Linked DNA regions of Homo sapiens. The protein of the gene in region 2 interacts with the protein of the main gene of each other region in a pairwise test. Each region holds a gene or a part of one and is shown on either strand. Other genes may lie near its edges.

Evidence for each region. The genes of interacting proteins can lie anywhere in the genome.
Region 1: the proteins of DEFB127 (region 2) and TFEC interact in binary tests that used the Homo sapiens proteins (3 or more experiments, as listed by UniProt).
Region 3: the proteins of DEFB127 (region 2) and FAM174A interact in binary tests that used the Homo sapiens proteins (3 or more experiments, as listed by UniProt).
Region 4: the proteins of DEFB127 (region 2) and ASZ1 interact in binary tests that used the Homo sapiens proteins (3 or more experiments, as listed by UniProt).

What each region holds. Positions count from the first base shown.
Region 1 is NC_000007.14:115,940,018-115,943,797, reverse strand, and holds part of TFEC (transcription factor EC), read left to right. Parts: intron 1-1,757; coding exon 1,758-1,905; coding exon of another isoform or gene 1,906-1,923; exon of another isoform or gene 1,924-2,866; coding exon 2,867-3,247; 3' UTR 3,248-3,780. UniProt on the Homo sapiens protein: Transcriptional regulator that acts as a repressor or an activator. Acts as a transcriptional repressor on minimal promoter containing element F (that includes an E-box sequence). Binds to element F in an E-box sequence-specific manner.
Region 2 is NC_000020.11:155,842-159,699, forward strand, and holds DEFB127 (beta-defensin 127 preproprotein), read left to right. Parts: upstream 1-1,612; 5' UTR 1,613-1,703; coding exon 1,704-1,752; intron 1,753-2,932; coding exon 2,933-3,183; 3' UTR 3,184-3,322; downstream 3,323-3,858. UniProt on the Homo sapiens protein: Has antibacterial activity.
Region 3 is NC_000005.10:100,580,340-100,584,053, forward strand, and holds part of FAM174A (membrane protein FAM174A precursor), read left to right. Parts: intron 1-1,007; coding exon of another isoform or gene 1,008-1,026; exon of another isoform or gene 1,027-1,065; intron 1,066-3,714.
Region 4 is NC_000007.14:117,420,748-117,424,527, reverse strand, and holds part of ASZ1 (ankyrin repeat, SAM and basic leucine zipper domain-containing protein 1), read left to right. Parts: intron 1-2,168; coding exon 2,169-2,291; intron 2,292-3,780. UniProt on the Homo sapiens protein: Plays a central role during spermatogenesis by repressing transposable elements and preventing their mobilization, which is essential for the germline integrity.

The sequences.
Region 1 (3,780 bases), on a different chromosome or scaffold from region 2:
TCTTAAAAAATTGTTGTGCAGAAAATGAAGGGCCAGCATCAACTATCAACATTCATTCTTTAGCCATGCCTTTATTGGTGTGTCTGTGTTTATATGGTACCACCCTATATAATATTTGTAATGCCTACTTTGTTGAAATTGTTTTGGGAGAGAGGCAAAAGTCTCTTTAGTAAATATAAAAAATAAATAGGAAAGAATCTAGTACATTAAAATTTCTTTAAAATAGAGGAACTTAAAAAAATTATTGTAAGTGACATCAGGTACAAATTGAAGGGAGGCTCATTGTGTGTTCTCTACTACCATTTTGAAGGTTTGTTTTTGAACTAATAGTACTTTAAACTTCAAATATGGCTAGGGTTATCTTTTTTTTTAAATCTGTTTCTCTGTCCTCAAGCTTTTCTTTCCATGAGAAAAAATGACACAAAATAAGGGTCCATAAGGCTTTTGCTACTACTTAAATTTTAGTTTAGAGTCCATTACATGTTTCAGTTACAGATACTTGGTTTAGCACCAAAGATAGACTGTCTCTCCCCACCCTTCCCACCACCACCATCCCACTCATTCCCCTCACCCCCTGTGAGTGGAATGAGACCAACAGCCATTATAGCCTTAAAGAAATGACAAAGCATTTTCAAACTTGCGATGTCCATTGACAATGTTTTGGTGCATTGCAGTAGAACAGAGCTCTTATCCAGGCTCCAGTAAGCACTTTCACCTGCTGGTAGAAAAATGTCTCTTCTTTTAATATTTTACTGCTAATGGCATTGTCACATCACCAAAAATATATGTAGAAAAATGTTATATTTCCCTACCTGTGTACTTTATGCTATATTAAAAACATCTCGTGACTCTAAATTCAAAATGTATCCAGGTTTTCCAACAACTCTGATTAACATTTAGCAATTACTTTGGACTCATTCTCCAAACATATTATTAGTTCTCATGCAGTATTACATTCATTAATGTATATTTTCAGATATCAAAATCAGTAGCCTCTTCCACAATTTCATATCTTTAATTTCTCCTGTCTTAAAAGTAAGTTTTAATGAAATGATTTCTTCTATGCTATAGCCTAAAAAGTTATCCAGTAATGTTTAATTATATTTACTTATCTTAAATGTATTTAAAAATAGCTATTCACATCAAGCTTTTAAAAAGTTTTGATGATGTTTGTATAGAAAAAAAATGACTGAATGGTTTTAGAAAGTTTGCTCTATTACATAAAGTGATGTTGCCAGAGTCTGATTTGTTTCACAATTGCTCAGGATCACCATTCAGGAGGGACTTTAATTTTTTCTTAGAAACATAAAAGCAACCTTATTAGAAAATAGGTTAAAAGATTGCTACATTTGAAATGATCTTAAAAAATTTAGGCTTAAGTCCTCAGTAATGTACATTTCCTAGTTCATTAATGCAGAAATACTGCACATAGATTTTAATCTTGGAGTTAATAATAAAAGCAATTTTCACTAAAAATATAAAAACTGTAATGGTAGAATCATGATATTGCATTTAGCTCTCCCACAAAAAGTCACTTTATTACTTTCTTTTGACACTTATTTTCATTCTGGGATTAATTTTACTATATAAGGGCTTCTTAACTATTCTATTAAAATTTCTATTCAGAAGCAATAATATCTAAGAGTGAATAATAGTCATGTAAATCATTATTTCATATTAATGTAAAAGATTTTGTAAGTTCTTATGAATTCTGCTGACATGCACAATTGTGAAAAGGTTATCTCTCCATTCTACAGTGATATGCGCTGGAACAAAGGAACCATTCTAAAAGCATCAGTGGAGTACATCAAGTGGCTACAAAAAGAACAACAGAGAGCCCGAGAATTGGAACACAGACAGAAGAAATTAGAGCAGGCTAACAGGCGACTTCTACTTCGGATTCAGGTTTTTATAAGAATGTAGCCATGAGTCACATAGCTTACACATGACTCAGCTGTCATCAGTTTTCTTCATTGGTCTCATTTATTTTTTCTCTTATTAACAATTATTTTTCCTTTTGAAGGATAATTTTACTGCTTTTTAGAAGTTCGTGAATTGGGTTGTTTCAATTAGGATTTGACTAGAAATCCAGGATCAAGATGGCTGAATATGTATATATGTATATATGTATATACACATATATGTGTATATATGTGTGTATGTGTGCATGTATATATATATACACATATATAATGACAACAAATTACAAAATGCATAAAATATAACTCATTTCATAAATGCACACATTATTATCCTAATCAAATAATAATACTAAGTAAAACATTTGTTTCTCTACATTATATTGGACATTAAATTCTCCCCTCCTTCTTTCATTTCTTTCCAACATTGCTATGGATTTCATTGCCTCAAGGCATGTTGTGACAGTGTATATTAAGTCACTTCTCATCTGTTCATATAATCCAAAATATCAAAATATGGGCTTTTATAACTCTCAAGATTTTTTAAAAATGTGAGTATGCTTAGCACCAGGTAAAACATTTACTGTTTCCATGAAAAGGTCCTGCATTTACAGTGAGAAATTAATCAGGAAGAATAAATAGATGACTTTCTGCTATCTCCAAATGGCTATATTGTAGTCTGAGCCACTATGGAACCATCATCAGTCATAACCTTTGTAGAACAATGAGACCAAACTTAAAAAAAAGTCTGAGTAATTTTCTCAGAGTTATTTTTCATGCATCAGAAATGTATCAATTTCATTATTTGCAAAGATTATTCATAATTTGTATTGTATTACTCTTCATTTTAAATGCTTGTTAATATTTTGATTCTATGTCTGGCTTATTCTCTAGTGTTAAATCCAATTTCAAAGACATTATTTAATGATTTTCGTTTGAAATTACAGGAACTAGAAATTCAGGCTCGTACTCATGGTCTGCCAACCCTGGCTTCACTTGGCACGGTTGATTTAGGTGCTCATGTCACCAAACAGCAGAGCCATCCTGAGCAGAATTCAGTAGACTATTGCCAACAACTGACTGTGTCTCAGGGGCCAAGCCCTGAGCTCTGTGATCAAGCTATAGCCTTTTCTGATCCTTTGTCATACTTCACAGATTTATCATTTAGTGCTGCATTGAAAGAGGAACAAAGATTGGATGGCATGCTATTGGATGACACAATCTCTCCATTTGGAACAGATCCTCTGCTATCTGCCACTTCCCCTGCAGTTTCCAAAGAAAGCAGTAGGAGAAGTAGCTTTAGCTCAGATGATGGTGATGAATTATAAGAAATAAACAGACCCAATTCATCAACTGGAAAGCAATTCTATGCTGGTGCTATGCAATTATGCTCTGTGTTTCATATGTTGCTTTGGCTTATTTTTTTTCTTAAAGGAATGTGTTGTTCATGAAAAACTGATAGAAGCAACAGAAGAATTCGCAGGAAGAAAAATCATAGTGTTAATGAATTATTGAGGGCGAAAAAAAGGTGTTTTCTTCTTTGACTACGGAGTCCAAATCCACTTAAATTCTGTTTTCCTGAAAAGAGGTACAGCATAAGAAATAGCTCTTTATTGATGTTTTAAAAGCAGCAACTTGGTGGTGTACTACTGGAACTAATGACTGCAAAGTGTTAAACGACTGAAATATACAAACAGTCTCTTAGTTACTCATTTCCATCTTCTCTTCAACTTTCACATCAGTCTTCCGGAATCAAGATCAACATATCAGGTGGTCATTGCCTTTCTCCATTGTCTAGTAGACATGTCTAAAGTTCAAACTTTATAGGATAAATAAATGTATAATAGATTATCTGTCACTT
Region 2 (3,858 bases):
GCTCAGACTTAGGGTCTTTATTTGATGCTCCACCACCAAGTCACCTATAAGGAAAGTTTGCATTCACAGGAAGACTATAAATAATAAAACCAATCCCTTGACTAGGACTTAAACCATGTAAAAGCTGGTGGCAAAAGTAAAGGGAGGTGACCCTTGAGACCTCTGAGGTAACTGCTCTTAAATTTACATTTGCCTCTAAAAAGGATTTCTTATATGTCAACATCTCTCTGTTTAAACATATTCTTGTGTAAAACCACTACGTGACCTGAATAATGGCCATAGGGCTCATCTCTAAGCCAACTGGCTTATTTATTTAATGCATCTCAGTGGTTAACAGGGTTGAAATTTTTTGAAAACTGCAATCAATGATCAAAGAATGATCTAGGTAAACATCGATTCCTTGTGGCAACATTTTAATATTTTCAAAGACAAGGTACAACTGGTAGAAAAAAAATACCCTCATGCATCTTTTTCTTCTAATTGTGGTAAAATATATGACATAACATTGGCCATTTTAGCCATTTTTCCTTTTATTTTTAGTTGACACATAATTGTACTTATTTATAGGATACAAAGTGATATTTCAATACATGCATATAATGTGTAATGATCAAACCAGGGTAATTAGCATATCCGTCACCTCAAACATTTATCATTTGTATTGGGAACATTCAAAATCCTCTCTTCTAGCCTTTTAAAAGTATACAATAAATTGTAGTTAACCATATTCACCTTACAGTGCTACAACACCAGAAGTCATTCCTCCTATCTATAATTTTGCATCCATTAGCCAATCTCTCTCCATCCTCCCCTCTCCCTAATCATTACCAGCCTCTAATATTAATATCTGCAACACTACTCTCTACTTCCATGTGCTCAACTTTTTTAGCTCCCATATATAAATAGGAACATGTGGTAATCTTTCTGTGCCTGACATTTCACATAACATAATGTCCTCCAGGCTATCCATGTTGTTGCAAAGGACAGAATTTCATTATTTTTATGGGTGAATAGTATTCCATTGTGTGTGTGTGTGTATATATATATATATATATTCCATTGTGTGTTATGTATGTATAGTATTCCATTGTGTGCATATATATGTATATATGTGTGTACATATATATATACATAATATATATTCTTCTGCACATGGAAATCCAGTTTCTCCAGCATGATTTATTGAAGAGGGTATCCTTTCCCCAGTGTATGTTCTTGGTGCTTTTATAAAAAATCAGGTGACCTCAGATCAGACCCAACTACATCATACCTTCTTTCGAAATGTGCAAGAAACCTACTAGAAATTCTTATTGTTAGAGTTTCAGATTTATGTCCTGGTTTATACTGCCACATTCATTCTTGGAGGTGAGTACATTTCGATCTTGGTCCGGCTGCGCAGAGAGTCAAAGCAGGAAAATCACAGATTCTTCCCAGCAGTCTACAGCCTACACAGCGGCATTTGGTGCGATGGGATGGAACATGCTGTATCTCTATTCCATGTGGGGGTAAAGTGGGTGGCCTGAAATTTCCTGTGTCTGCCTGCATGATGCAAAGCTCACAGTTCAGAAGCTTAAGGACACACTTCATATCATCCCATCTGTTCTGGTTCAGTGCATAAGAATCTAAGTCTCTGAGGAAGGTAGCATAGTGTGCAGTTCACTGGACCAAAAGCTTTGGCTGCACCTCTTCTGGAAAGCCTGGCCATGGGGCTCTTCATGATCATTGCAATTCTGCTGTTCCAGAAACCCACAGGTAAACCAAACCAGAAGCTCACTCAAATCAACAGTGGGATGGAGCATTTTCAGGAGCCAAAGGGAACTTCATAATCCACACTAAAGGGAAATAGAGCCCCCAAAGATGGCTAAAGTTTATCCAACATCATCAGAAATTTCCTCTTTCTGGAGCCTTATTCCATGTTACTATCCTTAAAGAGGAGTACTCACTGAGCTAAAAAGAGGTCATAATTTCTTCTGGGAAAGATGTGTTGTTATAGAAAGGAATGATGCCAATATCTAGGGATACCTTTATGTCTTTGGATATGGTTTTTACTCTGATGCTCAGCTATATTTCCTTTTACTCAAATATATATATGTGTGTGTGTGTGTGTGTGTGTGTGTGTGTGCATGAATAGAGGAAGAAGCAAATTTTGGAGTTAGGTTTAAGAAACATGCCTTCAATATCTACTAGTTTGTCAACTTTAAGTAGTGAAGACTCTAGGAGCCTCAGTTTCCTCATCTATGGAGATAATGACACCTGGTTAACAGGGGTTTTATTAAATGATATAACCTATGTGAAGCTTGGCACATACTGAGAACTCAAAAATTAGAGTTTCCTTTCCTCTTTCAAAACCAGATTTCTTACATGTGTCCCTTATTATAAGAATAGTAATGGCCTATTCCTGACCCTCTACATTCCTAAGACCCAATAGACTACTACCTTACTGGATAACATGAAAGTCATTCTTGACCCTGATAGTGGGTTTGAACTCAGGAGAACAGTTTGATTCAGACATAAACACATAGTAACAATACATTGTTCTCTGGGCATCAGAGGAGGTGCAGTAGAAGGTAGTGCTCTGGGAGCATTCAGGATGCAGGCAGATTTGCTGAGGTTCCTATGTAGAGCATAGTTCCATAGCCTAGAATCAAGGGTTCAGCTCCTTTATTTTCTCAGATAAGATCTTATGTTCTTGGCAGAGTCTATCAGATGTTAAGGGAGGCCTAAAACCTCACAGGACCTAAATATAAGTGATCCAGTTAAATACAAACACTGAGGTTGACCTTGTCGGAAAATCCTCTTCAGAATATATGAGGGTCTGCCTTGTGGATACCCCATACCCCTAATTCCTACAAGCCTCCTCTGTCTTCCCCAAAACCAACGTGCCTTCAGTCTCAAACACTGATATTGTTCTATTGCTCCTTTCTGTGTATAGTAACCGAACAACTTAAGAAGTGCTGGAATAACTATGTACAAGGACATTGCAGGAAAATCTGCAGAGTAAATGAAGTGCCTGAGGCACTATGTGAAAATGGGAGATACTGTTGCCTCAATATCAAGGAACTGGAAGCATGTAAAAAAATTACAAAGCCACCTCGTCCAAAGCCAGCAACACTTGCACTGACTCTTCAAGACTATGTTACAATAATAGAAAATTTCCCAAGCCTGAAGACACAGTCTACATAAATCAAATACAATTTCGTTTTCACTTGCTTCTCAACCTAGTCTAATAAACTAAGGTGATGAGATATACATCTTCTTCCTTTTGGTTTCTTGATCCTTAAAATGACCTTCGAGCATATTCTAATAAAGTGCATTGCCAGTTTTCTGTCTCATTTTGTTCTTTAACCAGGGGTTGAACACTCATTATATACTAGGTAATGAATTGATAAGAACTCAGAACCTCTCCTTGAAAAGGGGATATGACAAGTACACTAAAAAAAAAAAGTCCTATAGTGTGGAAGTCTGGAATAAGAAACTCAGAAACACTGACATGTAATTTAGGAGAGGGAAAGGTGAAGCAAATATTCAGGGGAAATTCATGAGTAAGTTTAGGAATAAAGCAGTGTCTTGTAGTAAATAAGTAAATAGTAAAGCAGTAAATAAGTAGGATTTCCATGGATGAGGTTTGGTAGGGAAGGCAATTTGAGTGAACAGAATGGGAGGAAATTGGAAAAGACAGAACATTTCAAGACACTATACATGCACTTTGTTTGGATGAAGAACAGAGCACTCAAAGTTGAACTATGGGGGAAGTCTGATTTCCTAAGCTCCTGTGTACCAGCAGTGAACTGGGAAGACGGAGATAAATAAGATTCCACTGTTGTGGAGCTCAACAGTGGAGCTCAACGCTTCCTCTAT
Region 3 (3,714 bases), on a different chromosome or scaffold from region 2:
GAGGGACAAAACTAATGGAATATATATGTATGGGAATTTACTAAGTATTAACTCACACGATCACAAGGTCCCACAATAAGCCATGTGCAGGCTGAGGAGCAAGGAAAGCAGGTCCGAGTTCCAAAACTGAAGAACTTGGAGTCCGATATTCGACGACAGGAAGCATCCAGCACAGGAGAAAGATGTAGGCTGGGAGGCTAGGCCAGTCTCTCACATTTTTCTGCCGCGTATATTCTAGCCATGCTGGCGCTGATTAGATTGTGCCACCCCAGATTAAGAGTGGATCTGCCGCTCTGAGTCCACTGACTCAAATGTTAATCTCCTTTGGTAGCACCCTTACAGACATACCCAGGATCAATACTTTGTATCCTTCAGTCCAATCAAGTTGACACTCAGTATTAACCATCACACTTGCAGTCTTCTATCTTTGCTGGCCACAGCTGAGGGATAGCTTGTCCTGCTTGGTTTTGGAGCACAGCCTCTATCCCTGCCATTCTTGCCAAAAGAGCGTCCTGTTAACAGACCCACTAAGATTATACCGTGTACTCCTGGTTCTGTTGCAGAGTTTGTTTGTTTGTTTGTTTTTGTTGTTTGTTTGTTTGTTTTGAGATAGATTTTGGCTCTCGTTGCCCAGGCTGGACTACAATGGCGTGATCTCAGCTCACTGCAACCTCTGCCTCCCGGGTTCAAGCGATTCTTCTGCTTCAGCCTCCCAAGTAGCTGGGATTACAGGTGCCTGCCACCATGCCAGGCTAATTTTCTGTATTTTTAGTAGAGGCGGGGTTTCACCATGTTGGCCAGGCTGGTCTCGAACTCCTGACTGCAGGTGATTCACTCACCCGGGCCTCCCAAAGTGCAGGGATTACAGGCGTGAGCCACTGCACAAGGCCTGCGGCATTTTTTTTGAGTCAACCAGTCTACCTTCTACAACTTCTATATCACCTCTCCAGAGAGTAGGAATCCTTAGCTACTTTTCTCATACCATATTGATTCTCCACTTTTTTCAGACTGCTGTGGAATTCCTGAGAAAGAGCAACTGAGGGATAGCAACATGGATTTCACTGAGTAGGTGGCAATTGAGTTAAAGTTATTTTTTTAAAGATATAAGTTAATCAAATAAGAGCCTATGAAGGCCCAGCATGGTGGCTCATGCCTGTGATCCCAACACTTTGGGAGGCCAAGGTGGGCGGATCACTTGAGGTCTGGAATTCAAGACCTCGCTTAAGGCTGGAAGACCATGCTTAAGGCTGGAAGAGAATTGGCTTAATTCTTGATAAGTTAAAAATAATTCCAATTGGGCATATAAATAAGAATGCCTTCTTCAATATTACATTTGGTCGTGGTTGAGTCATGCCAGGGAGGGAGTGGGGAGTGGTGGTTCCTACAGTAGCCCCTGAACAGCATGAAAACATCCAGAATAGAATTCTGAGGAAATTCCCACTCAAGGAATGAAATACTCTAAATGAGAGAGCTGGTCATACAGTCTTATAAATATAAACAGGTTCAAGGAAATGTTGGGCACAATGTAATATGATTGCTAGATCATAATAGTTATGCTAATTTGCATATGTTTTGAGGTTAATTACGAGTCTCAAAACGCCTTTCTGAAACCATATCTTAAGAGACTCTTTATGTGGTAGGTAATTTTCTATTTGAAAAAAATCTTTTAGATATTCCTCAGGGTCTCATATATAGTCAAGTTCAAAAGGCTATTTAGTGATAGAATTTGGATTAGGTTCTAGTAATTTTGTGTTCTCCTAGTTTATGAAACTGCAATTTTGATTTTACAGATTGACTTTTTTTCATAGTCTACAAATTCATTATCAGTATTATCATGGGTTTCAAGCGTTAAAAGGACAAGGGCTGTACAAAAGAATTCTAAGTGTTACATGTTTTTTTTTAATAACCTTCAGTATATTTTTTAAAGGATTAAATTTACTTTCAAAGTAAAAATATATTAGAACCTCATTATCTTATACTAATCATTTAGAGAACTATTACAGACTGCTGACTAAAGATTCAGATAAGATGAAAAAGAGCATTATTCATTTTCAGATGTTTTTCCAATGAAGTTCTAAATGTTATTGATGATTATAAAGGAAGATTTATTAAGTTTGTAAAATATGCACATTTTGTTTTTTTTTTTAATTTGGTTTGATCAAATGCTTTTCATTACGATGGCTCTTACTAGCAGAAATATTTTTGGAAGGCAGGATTTAAATTAAGTAGTAGTAAAGTTGTATAATTAGAATTAAAATCTATAAAAATTTGTATGTCAAAATATAGTTTTATATTATAATAAACTAGTTAGGCAATAAGAGAGTAAATGGGCAAACTTGCCCCATTGTAGTGTTTATTGGAAATCTTGTCTTTAGTATGGATAATTTTTGTTACCGTATTATAAATTTCCAAAGCATTGATTGTTTTATAGATTATACCTAGTAGCTTGTAGCTTTAGTAATCCTCATTTCTGAAGGTTAGAAATAGGAACAAATAACTGTATTTATAGGAACCATAGAAATGAATAACTGTTGTTGGCTCTTGAATAACATGGGGGCTAGGGGCACCAACTACACAGTCAAAAATCCACGTGTAATTTTTGGACTCCCCAAAAACTTAACTACTAATAACCTGCTGTTAACTGGAAGACTTACTAATATCATGAACAGTCAATTAACATGTATTTTGTATGTTATATGTATTATATACTCTATTCTTACAACAAAGCATGCTAAAGAAAAGAAAATGTTACTAAGAAAATCATAAGGAAGAGAAAATATATTTACTGTTCATTAAGTGAAAGTAGATCTCATAAAGGTCTTCATCCTTGTCTTCACGTTGAGTAGGCTGAAGAGAAGGAGGAAGGAGGGGCCGATCTTGCTGTCTCAGGGGTGGTAGAGGCAGAAGAGTTGAAGCAGGTGGAAGGGGAGGCAGGCACACTTGGTGTAACTTTACAGAAACACATCTGAGATTTTTGCCTTTTGATTTCTCTAAAACTGTTTCTATTGGTACCAATTCTTCTTCCACAGCTTGCTTTAGTTTTAGTGTCCATATCATAGAAAGGTCCATGTCATAAAAGAAGTTGAAAGCAGTCTTGAATAATTGGAATTCTTCTGCCACATTGACTACTGCCAATTTGTTTTCTGGTACAGCTTCTTCTACATCTTCTTCCTTATCATGTGGCACTGGTTCAGAAGCACTCATCTCCATCAAGTCATTTTCTGTTCATTGTTCCATTGTAATGTCAGTTAGCTCTTGAATTACTCCAAGATCCTCATCTTGACATCTTTTATTACCGATTTTTTTTTTTTGCAATATCCACAGTTTCTTTCATGATTTCCTTGATTGGCTCTATTGTAAATCCTGTGAAGTCATGTGCAACATCTTGAAACAGTTTCCTCCAGCAGAACTTACTGTTTTGCACTTGATGGCTCTCAAGTCTTTTTCAATAAAATAGCAGCATCTTCAATGGTATATTCCTTCTAGACTTTCATGACGTTCTCTCTATTGGGATCTCTTCCATAGTGTTGAATAAACCTTTCCATAGCGTACTGGGTGTAATAAGCCTAAGCATCCTTATGGCCCCCTTATCTCAAAGCTGAATTAGAAACATTGTATTTGGAGGCCAGTAGACCACTTCAATGCCTTCAGTGTTGAATTCCTGGGGTTCTTTGTGGCCCAGGCCATTGTCCAAAATCAAAAGAACTTTAAAAG
Region 4 (3,780 bases), on a different chromosome or scaffold from region 2:
CAAAAATTTTTAAAGTTCATTTTTAAAAGGCAGTAATAGAGATATAGGTAGAAGGAGAAAGATTTCTTTACCATTGTCCTCACTGTCATTCCCCTTACTGCTGATGCCTCACTTTCACAGGTTAACTCCTGTTTTAGGGTATTTCCTTCCAGATGTCATTATGTAACTCTTTTTAAAAATATTGTTAATTTTTTGCCTTTCAAAGTCATTATTGTTCTTGAAACATGCTTCTGCACCAATTGGAAACTCTAAAAATAAAAGCACATTTTGAGTCAGCCACTTTTAACCATTTGAAGATGTCTCCAGTTTTTGTTATTCTGTGTACTATCATTTTCAATTTTCTTTAAAGTATGACATATTTTAGACATTCAGAAAAGTACGGTACCCCCTCTGGAGATAACTACTTTTCTATAGTTGATGTTTATCATTCTTATGAGTATCTTTATACTTTTACTATGTCCCTAAACAATATAGTATTATTTTGAATGTTTTTGAGCTCTATAAATATACTGTGTTCATCCTTTTGAAACTTACCTTTTTTTGCACTATGCCTGGAACATAATATGTGCTTAGTAATTTATGTTAAATATTAGAGGTTAAATATTAAGTTAGAATTTTAGTAAGAATTTTTATACTAAAATGCCACATTTGCTTTTTTTTTTTTTTGAGATGGAGTCTCACTCTGTCGCCCAGGCTGGAGTGCAGTGGCATGATCTTGGCTCACTGCAAGCTCTGCCTCGTGTGTTCACGCAATTCTCCTGCCTTGGCCTCCCAAGTAGCTGAGACTACAGGCACCCACCACCACGCCTGGCTAATTTTTTTTTTTTTTTTTTTTTTTGTATTTTTAGTAGAAACAGGGTTTCACTGTGCTAGCCAAGATGGTCTCAATCACCTGACCTCGTGATCCACCCACTTCGGCATCCCAAAGTGCTGGGATTACAGGCATGAGCCACCGTGCCTGGCCTTTGCTTCTTTTTCTTTGCATCTTTTCCTTTCTATCTTTGCTATCACAGTTTGAGCAGTATTCTCAATAAATTGAGAAAACAATGATCTTTTCTCTGATCTCATTGATAAGCTTTCAATCAAAGCAGTTCAAAGAGGAAGATTTGTTAGAGAAGACAAGTAGGGCTAGCAGTAGATGTCTATACTAAGATGGTTTAATGTTTTCTCCCAGTGATTATTATGTACCTTATATCAATTAAAATTAGACAGTTAGAAATTAGACATATGTAGTCTTTCAGTGACCCGGTGTTTATACAGCCAAAAAAGTGACAGAGTGAGATCCTAAAAAAAAACAACAAAATACAAACAAACAAAAAAAACTTACTTTCAATACCTGATATCTCCCTTTATTTTAGCTCACTGCTTGTCATTCGATTGTCCAAGACAGAATTTGATAGTCATTTTTAATTTGTTGTTGTCCATCATACCTCCTCCTCAAAGTAATTTTAAATTCTGATGACCCTGCCTTTGAAATGTCCTTTTGTTTTCCTTCCTTTCTCTCTCCACTGCCCTTGCTCTGATTGTCGTATAAACTTCCTGTGTTATAACTAGTTTCCTTGCCTCCTGTCCCATTCTCAATAGTGGTGTCTATGTTGTCTTTATAATACATATGTAATGATGTCAGTTCCTGGATCACAAAACAGAGTCTGCGTTTCTTAAGGGAGTTTTCATAATCTAACCTTAACCTGTCTTTTTAGCTTCATGTTTTATCAGTCACCCATGGGTAAGTTTAGTGTTAGGAATAAAGTTAAAGGTTTTTGAGGGATATATGTGGTATTTTCAACCATAGAGATAACTGATATTGCCCAGGGATAATATTCTAATTTAAAAGACATTTTACCTCTGTGAAACCTTTCCAGCTCCCCTAGAGAAAAAAAAGGTAGCATGTAAAAACCTGTTATAATATACATACTCAGTTACATATATGATAAAACATCAGTCATATCAGTCTCGGAACATAGTGCCTGTAGTGAAACTGAAGTTAGCAAATTGTGTTAATGTCCCAATATAACTATTTTGTATTTTTTGGAAGCCATTAAAAACTTCCCATGGTGGAATAAAGTACATGATGTACGTCACTTTACACAGTACTTTAAGCATATAAGGTGACTGATTTTTTTCTTTGGTGGTAGTGTGCTTTTAAAAGCTTGTTTTTATATTGACAGGCATTAGTGTAGATTCCAACTTTCAGTATGGATGGACTCCCCTTATGTATGCTGCTAGTGTTGCCAATGCAGAGCTGGTTCGGGTCCTTTTGGACAGAGGTGCTAATGCAAGCTTTGAGAAGGGTAAGATGTTTTAGATAACTTAAATGATTATGCTTACTGTGATTCCTTGGTTTCCAAGTAGCTATTATATAAAGTGCAAAAAACTAAAGCCATTTGAAGTAACCTTTCTATTCATTATACTATGTAAATAATATACAAAATCAAATTAGAAACCATACATATTCTGAAAAACTCTCTTTCCAAAAACATAAATTCCAGTTATAGTATCTTTATAACTGGTTGTTATTATATATCTTTAAGGTTTTGGTTGTTTTTAAAGGAAAAATTCTTGAAAGAAACATTAAAAAGTTTATAATTTAGTGGCAAATTACTGGAAAATCAGTCTGTGGAATTTTAAACTAAACTCCAAATTACATCACTTAAAGTTGTTTCAAAGATAGTTCATGAAATCCATCTTTGTCCTTGTTACTAAATAATTTCCATTCAGAAGTGCTTTGAGTGTAAGAAGAACAAGAGTATATGAGCAAATCCAGTTTAATTATTACATTGAATTCCTGATTACTTATTTTTAACATATTTTCAATAGACAATTAAATTTTCTTCATAATTTCAGGTATAGGTTTCATTTTAGAATTGATTTTTACATTTTATACCTACAATTTTATTCTTTTTTCTCATTTATATATTTTACATAAATTTCTGTCTTAGCAACAGTTTCATGTTTAATATTTTCTATTAGGTTTTTCTTTTTATTATATCATTTAAAAATATCACTTGGCCAGGCATGGTGGCTCATGCTTATAATCCTAGCAATAGCACTTTGGGAGTCTAAGGCAGGAGGATCACTTGAGCCCAGGAGTTCAAGATCAGCCTGGACAACATAGTGAGACTTTGTCTCTACTAACAATAAAAAAATATTAGCCAGGGGTGGTGGCACACACTTATAGTCTCAACTACTCAGAAGGCTGAGGCAGGAGGACTGCTTGAACCCAGGAGTTCGAGGTTGCAGTGAGTTATGATCATGCTACTGCACTCCAGCCTGGACAACAGAGTGAGACACTGTCTCAAAAAAAAATTACTCAATGAAAGCTATGCTTAGGAATGAGGTTTTCAAAAGTGTATAAAATATTCTGCTCAAAAAATTAATTAATAATTATTCTTTTTATACTTCCCCCTCCTTGTAATCAGAGGGATAGTTAGAGCTATAAAATATATTTTTCACAGAATGTACACATGAGTTTTTTATGTGTCCCACAATAACCCTGTTACATACAAAGGGCAGATACTAGGTTCTTATCTGTATGTTAAATCTAATGAGCTATTAAGATATCACAAGAGTTACAGTTTCTTAGTGGCAGGACTGGGACTAGAATATGCTCTGTCAGTATTGAGCCACTAATGTGAATCATAGCTGTTGTGACCTATTTTGAAGTCTTAATTCAAAATAGGTGTTTTTTGTGTTTAATTTACTCTGATCTTTGCTGGCACCATGAGAGCCAAGGGAAGAAGAGTTTTAGGAAACAGTGAGTTCAGAAAGATGAAGTACAAA